Homo sapiens: one gene and its partners. The protein of the gene in region 2 interacts with the protein of the main gene of each other region in a biochemical or structural test. Each region holds a gene or a part of one and is shown on either strand. Other genes may lie near its edges.

Region 1 (7,026 bases), on a different chromosome or scaffold from region 2:
TCTCAATAAGTAAAACCTTCATGGAGAAAAATCTGTGATCTGACTGACTAGCATTATTCTCACTCAGAAACATGACACCAGTATGTGAATTACAACAGTAAATTCACATTCAAGATGAATATGCAATAAACATTTATAAAAAGACATCAACTATTAATTTACATAGGGCTATAAAATACTTTTAAAAATATGTACATGGTTATTCAAAAGGAGGAGCTCAATTTCAGTAAGAAATTATATGGTTGAACGCATGGTCACCATTTTTTTTTTTTTTTGAGACAGAGTTTTGCTCTTGTTGCCCAGGCTGGAGTGCAATGGTGCAATCTCGACTCACTGCAACCTCCACCTCCTGGGTTCAAGCTATTCTCCTGCCTCAGCATCCCAAAGTAGCTGAGATTACAGGCACCCGCCACCACACCCAGCTAATTTTTTTGTATATTCTGTTGAGGTGGGGTTTCACCATGTTGGCCAGGCTGGTCTTGAGCTCCTGACTTCAGGTGATCCACCCACCTCGGCCTCCCAAAGTGCTGGGATTACAGGTGTGAGCCACCGCGCCCGGCCATTCCCCATAATTTTTCTTTTTGTGACAGAGTCTTGCTCTGACACCCAGGCTGGACTACAGTGGTGCGATCTCAGCTCACTGCAACCTCTGCCTCCTGGGTTCAAGCCGATTCTCCTGCCTCAGCCTCCCGAGTAGCTAGGATTACAGGCATGGGCCACCACACCCTGGTGATTTTGGTATTTTTAGTAGAGATGGGGTTTCACCATGTTGGTCAGGCTGGTCTCAAACTCCTGACCTCAGGTATCTACCCACCTCGGCCTCCCAAAGTGCTGGGATTACAGGCGTGAGCCACTGCGCCCGACCCATTCACCATAATTTTAATGGCCAATCAGATCACTCAATTTCTCTCATTCACAACAAATACATATAAAATGAATGTATCTTCAATTTAAACCTAAAACCTGTTGTTCATATGCAGCAATTTACTTTGGGGATTCACATTAATTTGGACCAGAGCTCAGCAAAAGGAGTTCCTCTTCTCACTCTCTCTCCTTGGAACTCAAACGTAAGGAAGTGTCTAAGCACAGTAACAGCATAGCATATTGAAATGCAGTTTCATAAATGCAACAATCAGCTGTATACTCCCCCTTTTTTTGACTATGGAGGTAACCTTTTTGAAAGCATTCCTAAGCAAGTTATACTACATCTACACTACTATGTGGTAGTAAAATATAGCAGTAGTAAAGCCAGTTCTTTAGCTTAGAAAAGAAACTAAAACTACATTTTCCTTTTTAGTACCTTCCACTTTCCTACCCTTCCATTCAGAAAAGACAAGCAGGGCATGTTAATTCAAAAGACAAAATGATTACAATGCCAGATACCGATCTAAAATGTATTCTGCGTTGAATATGGTCTACATCCATCCATTTATACTTTTGCCATGGCCATATATATCACTGGTCAAGTACTTGGGCTTCCTTACACAGGAAAAGTCAGTTGCTTGGCACCTAGAAAAGCTGTCAGTGAGGTGGAACTGAGTAAATCCTAGCTCCTACGTGGTCTGCTCATCCATAAGCCCTAGCCAGAAGTGTGATAAACATTCAGCAATGGGGCCCTACTGGGCTCCTGATCCCAAATCCAGAGGGAAATCTCCCAGAGTTTATGGTCAAAGATGTACACCGGAGTGTACAAGTTTAGGTCAAGGTTACCTGAATCGCACTGAACTTTTGGGGGAATGCTTGATAAGTGAGTGTGGGTTATAGTTAGGCTCATTTTATGGTTTATTTCTATTTGAACAGAATTTAAGGATGACTTAGCTGAGATCCACCTGGGCACACAGGTACTTATTAATAAAGTCAAAGGATATTAATCTAAAGACCATTACACAAAGGCTATTTACAGAGAGAAACCCAAGACCTTTACTTTTTGTTTTTGAGACTGAGTCTCTGTCACTCAGGCTGGAGTGCAATGGTGAGATCTTGGCTCACTGCAACTTCTGCCTCCTGCGTTCAAGTGATTCTCCTGTCTCAGCCTCCTGAGTAGTTGGGATTACAGTTGCACGCCACCATGTCCGGCTAATTTTTGTATTTTTTGTAGAGGCGGGGTTTCACAATGTTGGCCAGGCTGATCTCGAACTCTTGACTTTGTGATCCGCCCACCTTGGCCTCCCAAAGTGCTGGTGGGATTGCAGGTGTGAGCCACTGCGCCCAGCCCCGATCTTTACTTTTAATATAATTATATTATGTATGACCAAAAGATGGTTCTCAACTGCCTTTCATTCAGCCAAAGATGGTTAGGGTGAAACAAATACTGTTTTGAAAGATAAATATGGCACTGAATGTAATAGTGACAGTTTGGGGTTCATTAGTCACATTTAGGAAATTATAGTTTTAGTCTCACAAGTTCTAACTCCCTTTTGTGATGATTCTCAAAATAATTTATCTGTTTTGCTCTGTTTTAACTTGGGAGACAAGTATGGAAGAATAAACTGTCAGACGAACAGTATTCTAAGATACCAACAATAAAATTATCAGCAAAAGCTCCACAGCTGCTGTGCTAAAAATAAAATGCTGGAGCAAAAAAAGACAAAAGGTGTATGCACTGTTATCAAAATCTGTTCAAACACTCTTTGGAGAACAAATGTCAAATGCAACTTTAAAACAACAATGACAAACATTACCATGTAACACATATTTGAAAAGTGAGTAGGACTTTTTAACAATACATAATTGACATATTATGAACAAGACCTATATATATAAACAATGGGGATCTATTGCTAACAAGTTATTTTCTCCCTGTATTTTATCTTTAGCAGTACCTGAAAACCCAATGAATTAGCCACAGGATATTTTCCACTTTAAGAAGTAAAGCCATGTAGATAAAACCAAGTCTTCTATGTTAAATTTATGGCAGGTGATATAATGCAAATAATAGCCTTCTTTCAAGTGAGCTCTTTTTATTCTATCATCCTAAGGAGAAAAATTTACTCCAGTTAATGTTTTATAAATACAGATTAACTTCGGCAAACCATTTAGATATTGTGTCAAATGCTGGATTAATGTATGGCACAGCAATTTTCTTCTATCTATCTATCTATCTATATCAGCTGAACCGGGTAGGTCTGGCACATTAAGAATATGCTTGTCCTCAGAAGATAAGTCTTTTGTACCTCTATCAATCAATCAGAAGAATAAAATCAGAAGTCAGATCAAAGATTAAGTTTGATGTTCTGACTCTCAAAAGAAAAACATGAGATAGATGCTTCAGGAAAAAAAAAAAATCACTATTAATTCCCCCCAGCTGCCTGCTCCCAAAATCCTACAACACATTTTCATTCCAAATTATAGACAGATGAAAACCACAAAAACGAGTCCCTTTCAGAGGAACTTATATTTAATGCCCAGTAGGGTATATGATGAAGAACCCTCACATCAAATACAGTGCACGCTGCTGTATTTATATTTTGGGTAGTTCCACTAAAAGCTATACTGCAAACAATGAGGCTTGTTGTAAAAGGATCACCTGTACAATTAAACCTCACATAGACACACAGCAAACCCAAATGTATATACTTCCCTCAGTGGAAGAAGTTGAAAATCTAGATCTAGAAATGTATAAAAAATGGCCTTGAAAACCTGCTATACCAAAATACCTCTACAGACAAGATAAAAACAAAAACAAAAATCAAACATTTGTTTTCCGGATTTTTCTTTAATACAGTTGCCATCTTACATGATGTACTATTAAGTGCCTTCTTAATAGCATCTAACCTACCCTTCTGTTGCACCGTTTGGCCTCCTGGGATGGAACTCTTGTTACCACCCATGTTTGTGGAGTACTGTTCTTCAGTACAGTACACCTAATTCATATTGTCAGGCCATATAATTCACGGGTAGTGGTATTAATTTCTAAAGCTGAATTAAAGCACACATCCAAACCACATATATTTTTTACTTTTCAACTTAAAGAGTTCATACAAAGTCTATTTCCTTTCTACAGTAGCTATCACTCCAGACTGTGGTTTAAAAATCCAAGAAGTGGGAAGAATGTCTTTGTTTTCAATGCTTCTTTCTTCCATCCTTTTTCTATCCTCCTTTTTTCCTTCTTTCCATTTTCTTTCTTCTATTCATCTCCTTCTTTCCTTTCTTTCTTAGTGATAAGAGGTTAACAGAAATGGGCTATTAAGGAAATCAAAGTCTAGTAAACGTCCAAAACAGAGATGAGAATAGTCACAAACTCTTCTTTTTGTAGTGATGTTAAATTACTGACAAATGTTTTTTTGAAAACAAAAAAATCTAAAAACCAGCACAAGCTAGTGGTGCTGCATATTATTTAAGCAACTGGCGTTCTTCAATGCTTTTGAGGCGTTTCTTCCGGGGCTGTACAAAGTCATCATCTGAATCATCACTAAATTTATTATCTTCTGATTCATTCCTGAATTCTGGTTTGGGAAACCTTTTTTCTGGATAGAGGTTCTTTAGAAGTTCTTCAAAATAATTTTCAAGTTTTATACCAGCATTGGCTACTTCTGAATCAGGCTGTGGAGTAAAAATAAAAATGAGTAAAAAAAGGACACACTTTTGACTTCTGAGATTATATATATTAATGAGCTGTTTTGAAAAGTGTTCATGCATAGTCATTGAAATAATAGTTTAGGACTAGACAAAGTCTCTGTACAGAAGGCCAGCTAAAATAAAAGATTCAGAAGTGTGGAAAAAAGATAAAAGTAAAAGCCTGGATTATTCTAAAAGAAGGTGGTAATGGTAGGACTATATTGCCAAACACATATCAGTTAGGATTCCATAACCATAGGATCATGAACCAGGTATTTTTAGAACAAATTAAATGTAGTACTATTAGAATGAGTAACAGAGAACAAACCACCAGCAGCAAAAGGTTCTAAGTCTGACTGATGTGTAGATGAACTGACAGATGAGAAATTTTTAAATTAGAGCTATTTGGCCCACATCCTTAATATTTCAAGATCAACATAAAAATAAGAAATACAGGTGGGAATGATAAAGAATATGTCTAGGTCAGAGAAAAACATTTTGTCTTTCAGTTATCAGCTGTAATTTGCATTTCCATCACCATCTAATAAACCTTTGAATATAAATGTGGACAGAGTTATCTGAATTATCTCTTGCATTCCCTGATCTGAAAAGTTGGAAATTTATTCTAACTCAGACATCTTGGTCTCCTATGTTGACAAGGTGTTTAGTAATAAAATGATTTTCACACTGCTGTTCCTTCCTGCCCCCTTCCCTCCCCTAGCCTCACCTCATTGAATTCAGCACAGTTTTGAAAGATCAATCTAAAATCAGCTACAAAATCTTCAGGTTTTGAGTACATGGAATAATCTTCTTGTAGTCTTTTCTTGATGGTTGACAAATCCATTGGATTTTTAATTATTTTGTAATAATCAGGCACCTATTAAAAAAATGAGATGTTATAATACAAATAGCTAAATTCCACCTTGTCCTAAATATATTCTATGAGATGTGCTCTAAAATTCAGAATGTTCTCATTGCTTTTCTCTGTGCTATTTGCCATTAGTAAAGAAACCCATTTAACAGTGTTTACAAGTGCCCACTGCCTTCCACACACACTGGTAAAGGTTTGTGTGACTTTTTCCAAAAGTTTAACCAATTATTATTTTTGAGACAGGGTCTTGCTCTGTCACCCAGGCTGGAGTGCAGTGACACAATCTCGGCTCACTGCAAACTTTGCCTCCTGGGCTTAAGTGATCCTCTCACCTCAGCCTCTCGCGTAGCTGGGGTTACAGGCATGCGCTAACATAGCCGGCTAATTTTTGTATTTTTTGTAGAGATGGGGTTTTGCCATGTTGCCCAGGCTGGTCTCAAACTCCTGGGTTCAAGCAATCTGCCTGCCTCAGCCTCCCAAAATGTTGGGATTACAGGCGTGAGCCACTGCACCCAGCCCCAATTATTTTTAATGAAAAAACTTGTCTTCACATATTTCCTCTTAATCATCTAGATTTTTTTCTTCATTATTAAACAAAAAGCAATTACTAGGAAGAATATCATTTCTAGTAGAATCTGACATGTTTTTGCTGCATGTATTATACAAGAGGAAGAAGGACTTTGAATCTGGGTTTAATCCCCAGCTCTGCTGCTCAGTGTCATGGTCCTGGGTAAGCTACTTAACCTCAGTTTCTTCATATTTCAAATAGGGATAATCCTGCCAAACTCACAGCATTTTGTACAGACTAAATGAGATGATATTTATTAAGAAAAAGGGGGCTACTTTGTCATTGTTGGTATTAATAACGTAACTGTAAGCCAGGATAATAAAAAGTACAATTCAAGGTTACATTTTCAAGTTGGTAATGTTGTTACAAGCCTCTCGACTTCTTTACCCTGCCTCTTTTGGGTACAAAAGACCCTTCTCCCTGGAGGTATTTATTTCCTATATCAAGTTCTCAAAACCTGTTCTTAAGAGAGAAGCTGACTGTATTTACTAAGCTGATTTTCTTCTCAACTTTGTATTAATTTGAGATTTATCAAACTGTAGAACAAATGAAAAAAAATTTTTTTTTTGGGACAGAGTTTTGCTCTTGTTGCCCAGGCTGGAGAGCAATGGCGCAATCTCGGCTCACTGCAACCTCCGCCTCCGGGGTTCAGACATTAGAAGAATACTCTTTTGGGGTACCAGGCCCTTTCCAGCACTCTAAAATTATGCGTTAAAGTCACATCAAACTTTTTTTTTTTTTTTTTTGAGACGGAGTCTTGCTCTTTTGCCCAGGCTGGAGTGCAGTGGCATGATCTCGGCTCACTGCAAGCTCCGCCTCCCAGGTTCACGCCACTCTCCTGCCTCAGCCTCCCGAGTAGCTGGGACTACAGGCGCCTGCCACCACACCTGGCTAATTTTTTGTATTTTTAGTAGAGACGGGGTTTCACCGTGTTAGCCAGGATGGTCTCTATCTCCTGACCTCGTGATCCGCCCGCCTCGGCCTCCCAAAGTGCTGGGATTATAGGCGTGAGCCACCGCGCCCGGCCACA
Region 2 (7,026 bases):
CCCTGGCTTTTCCATCAGACCGCCCGTGGTGCCGTCTGCATGCTCCCACGGTGATGGGGCACAGACCCCACCGTTCCTCCCTCATTTTGGTTGCACAGCCTGGGGCCAGTTGGGTGCCATCCCTGCCTGGTCTGTCAGCACACCTGGGCGGGGCGGCCTCGGGGGTGGGAACTCCCTCCTGGGGCCCTGGGATTACTCAGTTGTGAAATGGGGAGAATGGGGACGGTGACACCTGCCCCCGGGTTCCCCATGACAGGGTGGGTATGTGCTGGGAGGGTGTGGAGGGCCGAGCCGGAGCTGGCACGGTGGTCCCCACCAACTTCTTGCTGATCACTTACCCCCTCATGCCTCAGTTTCCCCCTCTGTAAAACAAAGTTAATGCCAGTTTTCCAGGATTACAGTTGGGATTAAGTGGGAAATTAATGACAGTGTCGGCCATAGAGGCTGGAGCCTCTAGAGCGCTCAGGGAGTGTGGAAGGTGCTGAAGGTGACTGTGTGACTGCAGGTGACTCCATGTCACCCTGTCTATAAGAGCTGTTAAAACAGCAGTGCGTGTGTGCGCGAGGGTCCCTGACTGTGTGACTGCAGGTGATTCCACGTCACCCGGTCTCCAGGAGCCCTTAAAACAGCAGTGCGTGTGCACGCGAGGGTCCCTGTTTCTTCCTCCCCGATGCCTGCTCTGCTTCATCTGCACTGGAACCTCATGTTGAGGGGCTGCTGTTACCTAACTGTCTGCCCCCCAGGGAACCCCCACTATGTTGAGAGGCTGCTGTTACCTAACCACCCGCCCCAGGGAACCCCCACTGTGTTGAGGGGCTGCTGTTACCTAACCACCTGACCCCCAGGGAACCCCCACTATGTTGAGGGGCTGCTGTTACCTAACTGTCCCCCAGGGAACCCCCTGATGTTGAGGGGCTGCTGTTACCTAACTGTCTGCCCCCCAGGGAACCCCCACTATGTTGAGAGGCTGCTGTTACCTAACCACCCGCCCCAGGGAACCCCCACTATGTTGAGGGGCTGCTGTTACCTAACCACCCACCCCCCAGGGAACCCCCCGATGTTGAGGGGCTGCTGTTACCTAACCACCCGCCCCAGGGAACCCCCACTATGTTGAGGGGCTGCTGTTACCTAACCACCCGCCCCAGGGAACCCCCACTATGTTGAGGGGCTGCTGTTACCTAACCTTCCCCCCTGGGAATCCCCCCGAAAGAGGCTGCGGCTCTCACGCACCTGCCTTCAGTTGGATAACCTGCTGTTTGGTGGCATTCCACGAAGGGCACACAGATCCCCGAGAGTCCTGGGACCCTGCTGGCAGCAGTGGTTCTGGGGCCATCCTGGGAACATCCCTGGGTGCTCTCCCACGTGCTCCGTGGCAGGAGTGTCCTGCACACGCGGGAGGAAGCTTCTGGGGCACATGAGTTTGTGAGCTCCCGGGTTCCACAAAGCTCAAGGGACTTTGTGTGGGACTTCTCAGGGCCTTTCGTGTGCCGGTGTGTACTGTAGAACGGGCATTCTCAGGAACCTCTTTTCTGTGGAACACTTCATGGGATTGGGGTTCCAGAGCCTGTCAGGATGGGTCGGTGACATGCTGCCTCTGTAGGGTCCCACCAGGGGCTGGGGAAGGGGCGAGCCCCGTGGGGCCTGGAGACAGCTGAGTGACTGTGTGCCTCCTCCCCAGGCTGGAATGAGCTGCTCATCGCCTCCTTCTCCCACCGCTCCATCGCCGTGAAGGACGGGATCCTCCTGGCCACCGGGCTGCACGTCCACCGGAACAGCGCCCACAGCGCAGGGGTGGGCGCCATCTTTGACAGGTGGGGGTGGTCCCGGGAGGGGCGAGGGCGCTTCGGTCACCTCCGCCACCAGGCCAGCTGAGTTCAGCCACCTTGGCCCCGGTGCACATCCTGCCTAGTATTATTTCAGTGCATGAAGGGTGCACACATGGAAAAAGAGAAAAGCATGAGGAGGAGGCTCAGAGCCCTGTGCCAGCCCTGCCTCTGGGGCATCTGTAACCACAGGGAGCACTTGGCCTATCTCCCTCCATCTCTTCTTTTTTCACGATCCCATGTATTTATCCGTGGGAAGGAAAGCTTCGTTTCTTTTTAAAGTGATTATACCGTAGATGCAGTTTTGTAAAAGTGTCAATTCCAGTTGGCATGTCGCAGGCTGCTTGAGGCTGGCACGGTAATGCCGTGGCAGCCCGGGGCGTGGTGCGGCCTAACGCCTGTCCCCGTGCAGGCAGGGGTGTCGGGACCGCAGTGCTTCACACCTCCCAGTGGAGCAAAGGGCTGCACCTCAGCCACTTCTCAGGGGACACACTGGAGGAGCAGCACTGGCTGGAGGGCCCACCCTCGTCCGGGCCTGGGTGGTCCGTGTCCGTTCATGTTGCCCTCCTGGAGTGCTGGCCAACTCCGCTCTGCCAGGCGAGGCGGACAGTAGCTTCCTTGTCCCTGTCTCTGCACAGCCTTTTTTTTTTTGAGATGGAGTCTCGCTCTGTCGCCCAGGCTAGATTGCAGTGGTGCAATCTTGGCTCACTGCAAGCTCCGCCTCCCGGGTTCACACCATTCTCCTGCCTCAGCCTCCCGAGTAGCTGGAACTACAGGCGCCCGCCACCACGCCCGGCTATTTTTTTTGTATTTTTAGTAGAGACGGGGTTTCACCGTGTTAGCCAGGATGGTCTCGATCTCCTGACCTCGTGATCCGCCCACCTCGGCCTCCCAAAGTGCTGGGATTACAGGCGTGAGCCGCCGCGCCCGGCCTCTCTGCACAGTCTTTCTCCACGAGTCTAGAGAGCCACACACACCAGACTGGGCCTTCTGGGGACCGGATGTCAGCTTCAGCTGGAGCGGGAAGGCTGGGGAGGGGCACTGCGGGGTCCCTTGGGCAGGGGTCTGCAACACAGGAGCCGTGGGTGGGGAGGAGCAGGCCACCTGGAGAACGTGGCCCCTGAACACGAGAGCCCCAACGTTAGAGGTGAGTAGAGGCCATGCACCGGCACTTACAGGGGGATTAATGCCCCAGCAGCAATGCCCCAGGGGGTGGTTCAGGTCCCAGAGTCCCAAGGGTGATCCTGGAACTTGACCTCCATGGGATGTGCCAAGTGCAAAAGGGTTTGTGGCCGCAGACGGTGGGCAAACGGTAGTTCAAACAGTGTCCTTGAGGGTCTTTGCCGCAGGACTTGTCAGGGCCTTTAAGAAGTTAGTGTACAGGAGGGTCCCCACGGGGGCTGCAGGGTGCAGTGTGCAGTGTGTATTGCCCACAGAAGCTTCTTTAGAGGGGTACTGGGGATATGGCTTTGGGAAGCGAAGCCCCAGCCACTTGCCCAGCTGACAGATCCTTTGTCTGGCTGGTAGAGAGATGGCGATGACAGAGGTTTCAGGGTTACATTCTCTGGGGTCCCACAGCAGTGACTACAGAGGCCCCGGCATTTCCTCGCCTTTTTTGCGAGTGGAATGCAAAGTCTGCCCTCAGTGGCCCAGGTCTTTTCCATGCCCGCTGCCCCATCCCTCTGCAGCTGTGTGCTCCTGCCTCAGAGCAGACATCGGGGGTCCCTCCCAGCTCCTGTTCTGTCCCACCCTGTTCTCCAGCCTCCTTCAGATCTTCTTCCAGGAATCAACCAGGGCACTCCCCATTCTGCAGACCCTCAGGGCCGCCCTTGGCCCACAGGGGAGAGCCCAGGCTCCTTAGGCAACCATCCCCACCTGGTCACCTCCTTTCCCCCGCTGTGGCCCACCCTTACTTCCTGGACACAGCAGTTGAGCTTTGGGGTTGGTGGGCAGGCTGCTGAGGCTAGGGGGCCCAGTACACTGCAGAGGCTGGTGTGATTCAGAATCCAGCTGCAGGGCTGGGGCAGCTGAGTCTGAATCCAAGAACGCCCCCAGCGTCTCCATGGAGGGAGCTGGCGGGCTTTCCCCGTGTTGAGGCTGGTGGATTTTTTTTCTCTGGTGACAAGAAGTAGACATGCCTCCCTCTGGCAGCCCCCACCCAGGGACACCAGGCCCTGGGGAAAGGTATCTTCCTGGACTGAAGGGAGCGGCTGGGGCTGTGGCATGGGAAGGGGCTTTGCCTCAGGTGGTGCTGGGTCCACAGCTGAGGAGGGACAGTGGTGTGTCTCACTGGGTTCGGGAGGGGTGGACTCTGTGCCCTCTGTGCAGCTGCGGCTCACCTCAGTTTAGCTGTCACGAGGCCCCTCCTTAGCACCTCGGTTCCCAGAATAAAGCCCCGCAGGCAGACCCTAGAGGGAGAGGAGAGGAGCCCACCCTCCGGGCAGGGCCAGGCAGGCCTGGCAGGGGCGGCACCTGGGCCTGGGTTCCAGCCCACTCCCTCTCGGGGTGTCTGGGAGTCCTTGCCTTGGCTTGGCCCATCTCAGCGGCCCTCGGGCCACGCCGGGCTCTCCAGAGGCCTTGGGTATCTGGGGTGTGGCCCTGGTGAGGGCTGCGACCTAACTGGGATGGGGTGTCTGCCCTCCTCCTCTGCAGGGTGCTGACGGAGCTTGTGTCCAAGATGCGGGACATGCAGATGGACAAGACGGAGCTGGGCTGCCTGCGCGCCATCGTCCTCTTTAACCCTGGTATGGCCTTCCTGCCTTGAGGCTTCTGGCCCCGTTCTCTGGTGGGGCAGAGGTGCCTGGGCCTCCTCCTGGCTGTACTTCTTGCCTCTGGCTACATGTGGGGCCAACTCCCACCCTCCTTGAGCTCAGTGTGCCCCCCTCCCAGTGAAAGTGTGGCCATGCTGCCTTCTGCTCACCTTGAGGGCCAGCCAAGGGGGCATGGTCCCTGGGCACAGGGGGACCCAGCAAGGCAGTTGTCATGAGGGGCTTGGTGGTGCCGTCTGGGCTCCGCGGTTCATAGTGTTCATCACTGTGCGTCGGAATCCAGACTCCGAAAGTGGCCAGCTGTGGTTGTGAACTTCCGGTGCTGAAGTTCAGGAGTCCCAAGCCCTGCAGGCTGGGGATGGGTCAGGCCTGCCGGGTGTTCCAGAGGGGACCAACCTCATCCCCAAGCCTCGGGTCCAGGGTGTTTCTGGGGCTGGGCCCCTGTGGTTGAGGAGAGCAGGGCTTGGGGCTGTGGGGCTGGGGCTGGGCACAGGCCTCCTGGCCGACAGTGCGGCCCTTCTCCAGCCTCTGGGTTCTCGGCTTGAAAAGCCTCCTAGGTGCTACTCCTTCGCCCAACAAGTGCTGACACGTGCCTGTTTGCTCGGTGCCCTGCTGGCATGGGAGGGCCCCTTCAAGCTGCTGGATAGGGCTTGCCTGCCTAGAGCTTGGGGTTTAGAGGGTCACGCCCACCAGCAGGCACCCCCGGCACGTGAGGGCAGGAGCACGGTTGGTCGAGGGTGCGGGCCACTTCCTCCGGGAGCTGCAAGTTAGGGGCCAGGGGAGTGAGAGGCACGGAGGTGGGGTGGGCTGGTGGAGGCAGCCCAGGCAGGGCCTTGAAAGTCTTGCTAAGTTTGGGTTTTTTCTTGGGGCCACAGGGAGCCAAGTCCTGAGGGGTTCCAGCCGGGAGGGAGCTATGGGTTTCTGTGTTTGGAAACTCAGCTCATTGCGTGATAGGGGCAGGTGGCTGGGGTGTGGAGGGAGAGGTTTGGGGCTGCTGTGGGGAGCTCACTTGGGCTATGGTGGAGGGAGTGGAGCCCTCTCGGCTCCTGGCCCTGACCTTCTGACCTTGCCCTTTGTCAGACCTGGCTCTGAGGGACCGGGCCGGGATGGAGATGGGCATCTTCTTGTGGGGAGAGCTTGTTTCCAGGGTCATTTTATCACCCAGGCTGTGCATCCGGGCCGTAATCCTGCCAGCTCGGAGGCTGAGTCATGCCACGGCCCGGCCCGGCCCGAGGAATCCCCATTCAGGTCCTGTGTGGTCTGGTTGCTAGAGCTGGGGCACCAGCAGGACCTGGGCACCGGCTTGCAGGGAGGGTGAGATTGTCTGGCACAAGCAGGGTCCAGGCACAGGCTTGCAGGGAAAGCGAAGAGACCAGGGCACAGGCATGCAGGGAGGGCGAGGAGACTGGCTGGAGCGGAGGCAGCTGGGGGAGCCAGGTACGTTGCCAAGGAGCCCAGGACACAGGCCAAGGTGGCATTCACAGGGGGTCCCTGGGCCTTGGGGGCCAAGGTGGCATTCACAGGGGGTCCCTGGGCCTTGGAGGTTTTGGTGGCTGCAATCTTAGCCTCTCTGTCCACTCTAGGCTCTTGAGCCCGGGTCCTGAGCTCAGGACTCCGCAAGCACACCGAGGATGGGTTTCCGCAGGGTCTGGGTACTCCTGGGGGCAGCAGCGCTATCTCCCATCCATGTTATGGGGCTGGGACCCAAGGGCAGCAGCAGCATCCATTGTCTCTCCCAGTTCCCAAGGCGGCTGGAAGGAAGGCAGCAGATCCCTGACACTTTATCGATGGGGAAACCGAGTCTCTGGAGGTCAAATAGTTGACCCAAGGTCACGTGGCTGGCAAGTGGCAGAGCTGAGCCTGGACCCAGAGCAGCCTGGCCTGGCCGTGGGTTCCACAGTCGTCCCCCTGCCACCAGGCTCTGGGGGAGCGGGCGGAGGCATGTCCAGCGGCATTCCTCCACCACCTGCTCTGCCCATGGTGGGGCAGCCTGGGAGACCCCACACAAGCCTGGGTCCTGGGGGCAGGTGCCCGAGACACGCCCCAGCTGAGGGTTCTGACCTGTGGCTTCTTCCTTTCAGACTCCAAGGGGCTCTCGAACCCGGCCGAGGTGGAGGCGCTGAGGGAGAAGGTCTATGCGTCCTTGGAGGCCTACTGCAAGCACAAGTACCCAGAGCAGCCGGGAAGGTGGGTCCCGCCCCGTCCCACACACACCCCAGACCCAGGCTCTTGTCTCCAGAGCCCCCACCCCCTGCAAGGCCATTTTATGTGAATGAGAAGGTGGCACCCTCCCCAGGCCCAGCCCATGCCAGCAGGTCCTGAGCAGGCAGCAGGAGGTCCTCCAGGCCAGTGGGCTGTGGCGGGCACACCCCACAGGCCCACGTCGTATCCCCACTGGAAGGATTACCTTGCACCTGGCGCATAGTAGGTGCTTC
Region 3 (7,026 bases), on a different chromosome or scaffold from region 2:
TATTAATTTAGTAAAGTAGTTAAAATACAAAAAATGGAAATCTGCCTTTTTTTTAAAGGATCTATCAAACTTCCCTCAATTGTAATCAATTTTTACTAAGTAGCACAAGGTTTAAAGAAATATATATTGAAAAGGATCAGGGTGGGACAGACACATTGGGAACCACAAAACCTCTTCCAAGAGTTAAAAATAAACACCTTTTTTTTTTCTTTTTAGCAAAAGTGAAAAATGTAAGCATATATTTTTCTAATTTATTTTTGAATTGGATAATAAGCTGTGAATCAGCACTAGGTTTTTTTTTATTGGATAATTATCCTTTAAAGAGTTGTTTAACAGTTTAGACTTTAAAAATGTGTTATGTAGGCTGACTTCTGAAAAGCAAAATAAAGTACCCTAATAAAGGCAGCAAAATGCATTAATCCACTATGAATGGAGTTTTACATTTTAATTTATGCCTAATATTTATAAAAGAATTTCATTCATAGGCTACTCACAGTTGTTATCTGATGCATACAGAAGTGTTAAACAACCAATTGCTAGTTCAGTAGTTTCCTCATGACATCTAATGTTAAGCAAAAATTAGTATGCATATTTCAACATCACCAGTAACCAATACTTTTCAAAATGAAAAAAGTTTCAATTATACCATGCTTTTTTTCAAATCATGCTCTTATTTATACAGATCTCAAGTTCATACTCATTAGTTTTAAAAAGATCCAAAACTGGATGGCAGGTACATTTTATTCTGATTCTTTCTTTATCGTTAGCACGCTTCCCAGAAGTCCATAAACTTCTCCATTTGCGCTGTGTGGGCGAGAAGCATTATTTCCCATATGGCTATTGTAAGGGCTTCTTAAATTAAAGAAAGAAGCTTTCGTTTCTGCAGTAGGAAGTAACTCTTCTTTGGCTGTGACCTGTGAGACACTTTCAGCAGATGAAGCCTCCCTCCAAATGTCCTTGTCTTGTGTTTCTCGACTGGTAACAGAATTGCCTCCTTTTTGAAGCATGTAATATAGTATTGGGTTGGTTTTGGTCAATCTTGGAGAGTCTTTTTCATACTCATTCTTCTCCGCATCAGTGATAACCCACTTAATGGGTCCTTTCTCACTGGGCATGGAACACCCATTCAAAAGCCCAGATTCTGGTCTAGACCCTGCACAGCCCAAGTGCTCAGGGAAAGTAGGACTCACAGGAGTTTTTACTACACCTGGGTATGAAAATGTCCTGTTATCCATGCAACTGCTGGGCTGAGTGGAACTGTACATCAGTCCATTTAAAGAAGAAATGCTAAATTCAGGTTTGCTGTTGGTCACATTATTTTTGTGTCCTTTCTTTTTACTGTCAGCCACAGAGTTACTTCTGTGCGGGGACAAATCTCGCACACAGTTTTCTGAGAGAAGCAGCTGTTTCAGAACATTAAAGCTTTTGCTCTCTCTGGCCCAACTCCTGTGTTCACTTTCGCTGGCTGAGCCATGACCAGCAGGATATTTAAATTCAAGATCATTTCTGCTAAATTTCAGCTCTTCCTGGTTAAGCAAGGACCCATACAGTACTTCTGGGGCACTGTGATTGTTTGCAGCATCAACAATGTTGTTTTTCATCTTTTTAAATGGATTTTCTAATGGCTCAGTATAAAGCTTCCTTTTCTTAGGGACCATGCAAAGATTCTTTGATTCTAGAAGTGCCATTTCATTATTTCTGTGACTCCTGTCTGAATCATCTGCCAGGTAACTATCTTGATTTTGTCTTAGCAATCGACTTAGCAGACCATTCTTGGAGAAAGAAAAATCCTGAGGTGAAACAGGCTCCGATTTAAAGTCTTCGGACACTGGTAAGGCAGGTGCGCTTCTCTGCACAGCAGGAGCCATACCCAAGAATGGGGCACTCTTAGCATCATGGCTCAAGTGCACATTTGTGTTAGGAATTTGTAAGTCATCACAAGGCTCAGATTTTATTTTCACCATCAGTATTTGTTCACTTAAAGCTCTCTCTGAGTGTTCCTGAGTACTTTCATCTCTTAAGGGAGTTTTCTCTTTTTTTTCACTCTTCCCTTTGTTGGGGTTCCCCAGGAGCAACTGGAGGACAGTACGTCTTTCAAGCAGATTTTCTATTTCAGAACCAGAAAGCCCTGGTTCAGGACCTGTTGGTTGACTACTAAATGCTTTATTTTCTTCAACTGCATTTGTTTTATTTGAGAGCAAAGGGCTATTTAATCTATCAATCATACCTATCGGTTTATCTGTGTTTCCAGTTAACAGCTGTTTGCTGGGTCTCTGCTCTTCCACTGACATGGATGACTGCATTCCACATTGTGCTAAATTTTGTAACAGCTTACTGGCACTAAACGTTGCAGAGTTCTGTGCACCTTCATTTTGGGCTGGTTTCTCTCCTGGTGGGTCTTTGCTTTTTGTAAGGTCCATTGAGTGGTTAGATGCAGTATTTGTTAGCTTTTCAGACTGAGTACTGCAGACATATGGTGGGGAATTCCATTTGATGACCAGAGAGTGTTGAGAGAGATTGATGGGAGACCCTGCTTTGCTTGATGTAAGTAAAGGTGGAGTGCTCACTGGAGTAGTCCGATTTGTACTGGGGCTTTCTATCACAGAAGTCCTTGCATAATTTTGTGTATTGAACTTGCTCACATCATTGTGTACTCCCTGAGGGCTGGTGTTTTTTTCTACATTTTCTTCATTCTTATGGCCAAGTAGCAATTGAAGAAGTGTTACTTTCTGGTGTGAGTTTAGCTTAGAATTCTTTGAGGTATCTTGATCTTCTTTGATATCTACATCTGGGACTTTTGGATCCCAAGTGTTTAGCAAGGATTGAGTGAAGTTATCCAGGGAAACAGGTTGGTCAGATTCTGATTTTTCAGTTCGGTGTTTGCAAGACAAGTCTATGGGAACACAGTTGGAATAAGAACTTTCATCACCACTGCTGTCATCTGTAAAACTAGGATTGTTATCTGAATATTCATCAATAGTTGTAGGTGTACTACTTTCCTCAAAAATGCTTCCTCTCTCACTGTGACTGTGTCCATTCATTGGCTTAGGTATAGTCTGGCTTTTAAGAAGATGTAAAAGCAAACTATTGTTAGCAGCTTGTTTTATATTGTTTCTTTCCAGTGAGTTCTTATAACCTGCATTTTTAGGGGAAGAAGGAATGATACCCATTGGATTTTGAAACACTGTAGCACTACTTTTGCTAGCCATCAGTTTGCTTGATGATGTTCTTGCCTGACCATTAAGATGGCTTGACATTCCTTTTGGGAGCTGGTAACTGCCAACATCCTTCTGGCCATTTTCTTGCAATCTGGCCATAGCAGCAAGTCTTTCACTTGCTGCTTGATTTGCATTTTGCGTTTTTAAAGCGTGTTCTCGAGAATACTGCTGCAAATGGGCTTCGCTTGACAGAAGTAATGCTAACTGGCTACAAGCAACACTAGGTTTAGGTGAGGTGGCAGGACTAGCCCTTTTTTCCACCATGCTTGCAACAGCCTGTAATCTTGCAGCACATGACAACGGTTCACTCATGACCTTTGTTCCACTTTGTCCAACATGATGAGGAGACTCTGCAAACCTATCTCTGATGAGGTTTTTAGTCACATCAGGAAGATTCGTATCAGGCTTTTGATCTTTAACTTTACTTTTCTTCAACAAAGTTTTTAAGTGACTTGATGCAACACCATAGCACCTTAAATCCTTCTCCACTTTTAAAGAATCATGACTGAGGGCATATCCTTGCTCCTTGAGGCTCTGCCTGATTTGTTGTGACAGAGCAACAGTCTGCAGCCTAGAGCTGAATGACTGAAGCAAAGAGGCCAGTAATGTGCTATCCTGTTTGCCTTTAGGCACACTGTCAACCATGCCAGCTAGCAAAGCTTCCTTCTTTACGTTTAAATTCATGATAGAATCAGACAGCCTCTTCCGCTTTGCTGCATTCCAGTCCTCAGAAGACTGCAACAGTCTGGCTTTTTTGAGGTGCAGCATGCCAGACCCCTGATATGTATGTGTATTGAGAACTGGACCATTACTTTGACAGGTGGGAAATGCACTGCCAGAAATGTTAAAGTTCTGATCCTCTTCATTATGCCCAGCAGACTTTTTGTCAACGGCAGTACCTGATCCCCCTGCTGCCTGATGCATTAGTAATCCTTCTAGGTAAGTTAAAACAATAGAATCCTGGTGCACATCAGAGCCAAGCTCTTCTCCATGAGTCATGTTCAATAGAAGTGTTCACAAGGGCTTGGTTTCTATTCACTTTAAAGAATGGTTTTCTGTGGTGAGTGCGATGTAACTTTAATAAAGGAGTATCAGTTTATCACCTTCCATCGCAATCAGAGAGAGACGTACTGTTACATTCTGTCCAAGATTTCTTCTGGCAATGACAAGATAAATGCAGTCTGACCACAGTGCTGATCAACTTCTACGCAAGGAGGAGGAGAAGAATTCCTTAACACATAGGTCTGTAGCAGTAAGCAGATAGAATCCTTAGTGAATATATTCCTTTTCCTTCTTCATCTTTTGTTCCCCATTAAATGCAAATATCAGTGTTCTAAAAAAAATAAAAATAAGAATAGTTAAGGAGGCAGAACTAGAATCACGTTATGATACCTACAAGCAAAATAATATAGCATCTGTAAATGTATATATATATTACATATAAATAATAGACATATAAATGGATTATAGTCACTTTAGTAATTTGTTTTATTGCCGTTCCTATTCAATTGAAAATGTCTACTGGAAATCCTGTGGGTTAATGCATACTGTTAAAATGATCAAATCATTAGAGAAGAGAACATACTTTAATGTTACATAGCCATCTTCCAAAGCCGCCAAGTCTCTGAATTTTCATAAGCACCTTTCTGCAAAGTAATGTGAATGTTCAGTCTCCTTTATAGCTTTATAGCTCTACAGGGGAACTAGAACTTGCTTCCTTACATTACTGGGCACTTAGGAAGAAACAAAAGTAGATGTGCAGAAAAAGGAAAAGAGATGCAGACTCTGATGAGTCTGATGTGGGGTTGAGGCCAACAGAACAGATTCATTTCTGACATCATCCCCCAAACACCAGACATTCCATAAGTAATTTTTAGAATTTCCGTTTTCAAAAAAATGAAACCACTAACAAGTTGAAGATTATTTTGTGAGTCTGTTCAAAGTGTGACCATCTTAATCATATTCATAAACATTAAAATACAGTCATAAACTTACCTACCCATACTTTTTACCATGACTTATTAAAGACAGAGAGGAGTGATTCTTTAGATGCTTGTTCAGGGCTATCAAGGGTTTAATGTAGTTCGTTAGTAAATCCTTACTCATGTGCTCTATGGAGAAGTCTTAATGTCAGGTCCATTCCTTACAGATACAGAAGACAGGGAGGGCATAAACATATATAAAAAGTACAATGGAGAATGCCAAAGACATTTTAGTCACAGTTTGAAAAATATTCCAATGATATTTATTATCTAAGAAGAGACCAAAAAATTTCCTATCACTAACACATACACAACAGAAGAAGCAAGAACTCATTGCATTTCTGAAAACTTGATAGGTAAGTGTCAAAATTGACCTAAGGAAGGGGGGCCATGACACCTTTGGAAGAGAAGCTGGAATAAATTCCATGCAGTTTGTTTTTCAAGATGCCAGAACATTTTGTTTAAGTTATCAGACCTGAAGCTATCAACAAATACCTTGGTCCCTATGGAATTTAAAAGATAAATTTTAATTGAAAGACTACCCTGTAGCTTTTTAAGTACAATGCTTAACTCTAAGTCAAACTTTAGGAAATAATTATCTGATTGTATCAAATTGTTGAATTTATTGATTAAAAGGATAAGAAATGATAGCCAAAGAAAAAGATACAGAAAGGAGGCAGCAACAATTAATTTCAACTGTGTAAGGAGTAGGATGAGAAGAGACTTTCTTGAGATTCCAATGCCACCATTTTAAGAAGCTTTGCCATAATGTACTTAAGATGGATATTTTAAGAGGTTAATAATGATATAGAAATGAAATGGTTATCATGACTGCCACCAAATATCCATTCTCCCATTTTCATTTACTAATAAAACCCTGACTTGTTTTTCAGGGAGTAGGGAGGTATCCCAGCTAAACACTACTTTTCTCCCCCCTCTGGTTATATTTTACAATTGATGGCATGTTGCTTAATTGGAGGCTTATTTTTCTTTCTTAGTGGTATAAAACATACGGGTACATTTTACAACTGATAACATCTTGGAGTTGAGGAAACCCAGTTTTCTAATTCTCTCAAAAAACTTAATATGGCCAGGTACGGTGGCTCACACCTGTAATCCCAGCAATTTAGGAGGCCGAGGTGGGTGGATCGCCTGAGGTCAGGAGTTTGAGACCAACCTGACCAAAATGGTGAAACCCCATCTCTAGTAAAAATACAAAAATTAGCCGGGTATGGTGGCATGCGCCTGTAGTCCCAGCTACTCAGGAGGCTGAGGCAGAAGAATTGCTTGAACCTGGTAGGCAGAGGTTGCAGTGAGCCGAGATCGTGCCACTGCACTCCAGCCTGGGTGACAGAATGACACTCTATCTCAAAACAAACAAAACAAAAATAACAACTGCTAATATACAATTAATTCTCAACTAGTTAAGACATTTAACAACCATTTAATGGGATATGCAAGTCCACTGTATTTCTCTCCACACCACTGCCAACCTTTTTGCTCTTGGGTAGACTCAAGAAAGTCAAAATCATACCAGTCATTTGAAAACTGGTTTGTAAACAGCCATAAAACATACTTTATTTAAGAATAAGAATGAAATAAGGAGCATCTTTGAGTTCATATTACTCCTGTTATTGCTTTCTACTTTTTACTGTGCATGATATAATTTGCAAAGTATTATTCATTGCTTTAAAAAGACTGAATTTACACATTTCTGAATTTACAAAGCAGATTTGGAAGTTGATTTAAAAAGGAATTATCACAGTTTCCTTGTAAAGGAGCTCTAACACTGTATTTTACCATTTATTTACCTCTCTACCATTTAT

Evidence for each region.
Region 1: the proteins of RXRA (region 2) and TRIM24 form a complex in vitro, tested with the Homo sapiens proteins (3 studies listed by BioGRID).
Region 3: the proteins of RXRA (region 2) and NRIP1 form a complex in vitro, tested with the Homo sapiens proteins (2 studies listed by BioGRID).

The regions. Positions count from the first base shown.
Region 1 is NC_000007.14:138,582,258-138,589,283, reverse strand, and holds part of TRIM24 (transcription intermediary factor 1-alpha), read right to left. Parts: intron 5,435-7,026; coding exon 5,285-5,434; intron 4,543-5,284; coding exon 4,333-4,542; 3' UTR 1-4,332. UniProt on the Homo sapiens protein: Transcriptional coactivator that interacts with numerous nuclear receptors and coactivators and modulates the transcription of target genes.
Region 2 is NC_000009.12:134,427,430-134,434,455, forward strand, and holds part of RXRA (retinoic acid receptor RXR-alpha), read left to right. Parts: intron 1-1,678; coding exon 1,679-1,811; intron 1,812-4,475; coding exon 4,476-4,567; intron 4,568-6,672; coding exon 6,673-6,778; intron 6,779-7,026. UniProt on the Homo sapiens protein: Receptor for retinoic acid that acts as a transcription factor.
Region 3 is NC_000021.9:14,963,976-14,971,001, forward strand, and holds part of NRIP1 (nuclear receptor-interacting protein 1), read right to left. Parts: intron 4,552-7,026; 5' UTR 4,218-4,551; coding exon 741-4,217; 3' UTR 1-740. UniProt on the Homo sapiens protein: Modulates transcriptional activation by steroid receptors such as NR3C1, NR3C2 and ESR1. Also modulates transcriptional repression by nuclear hormone receptors.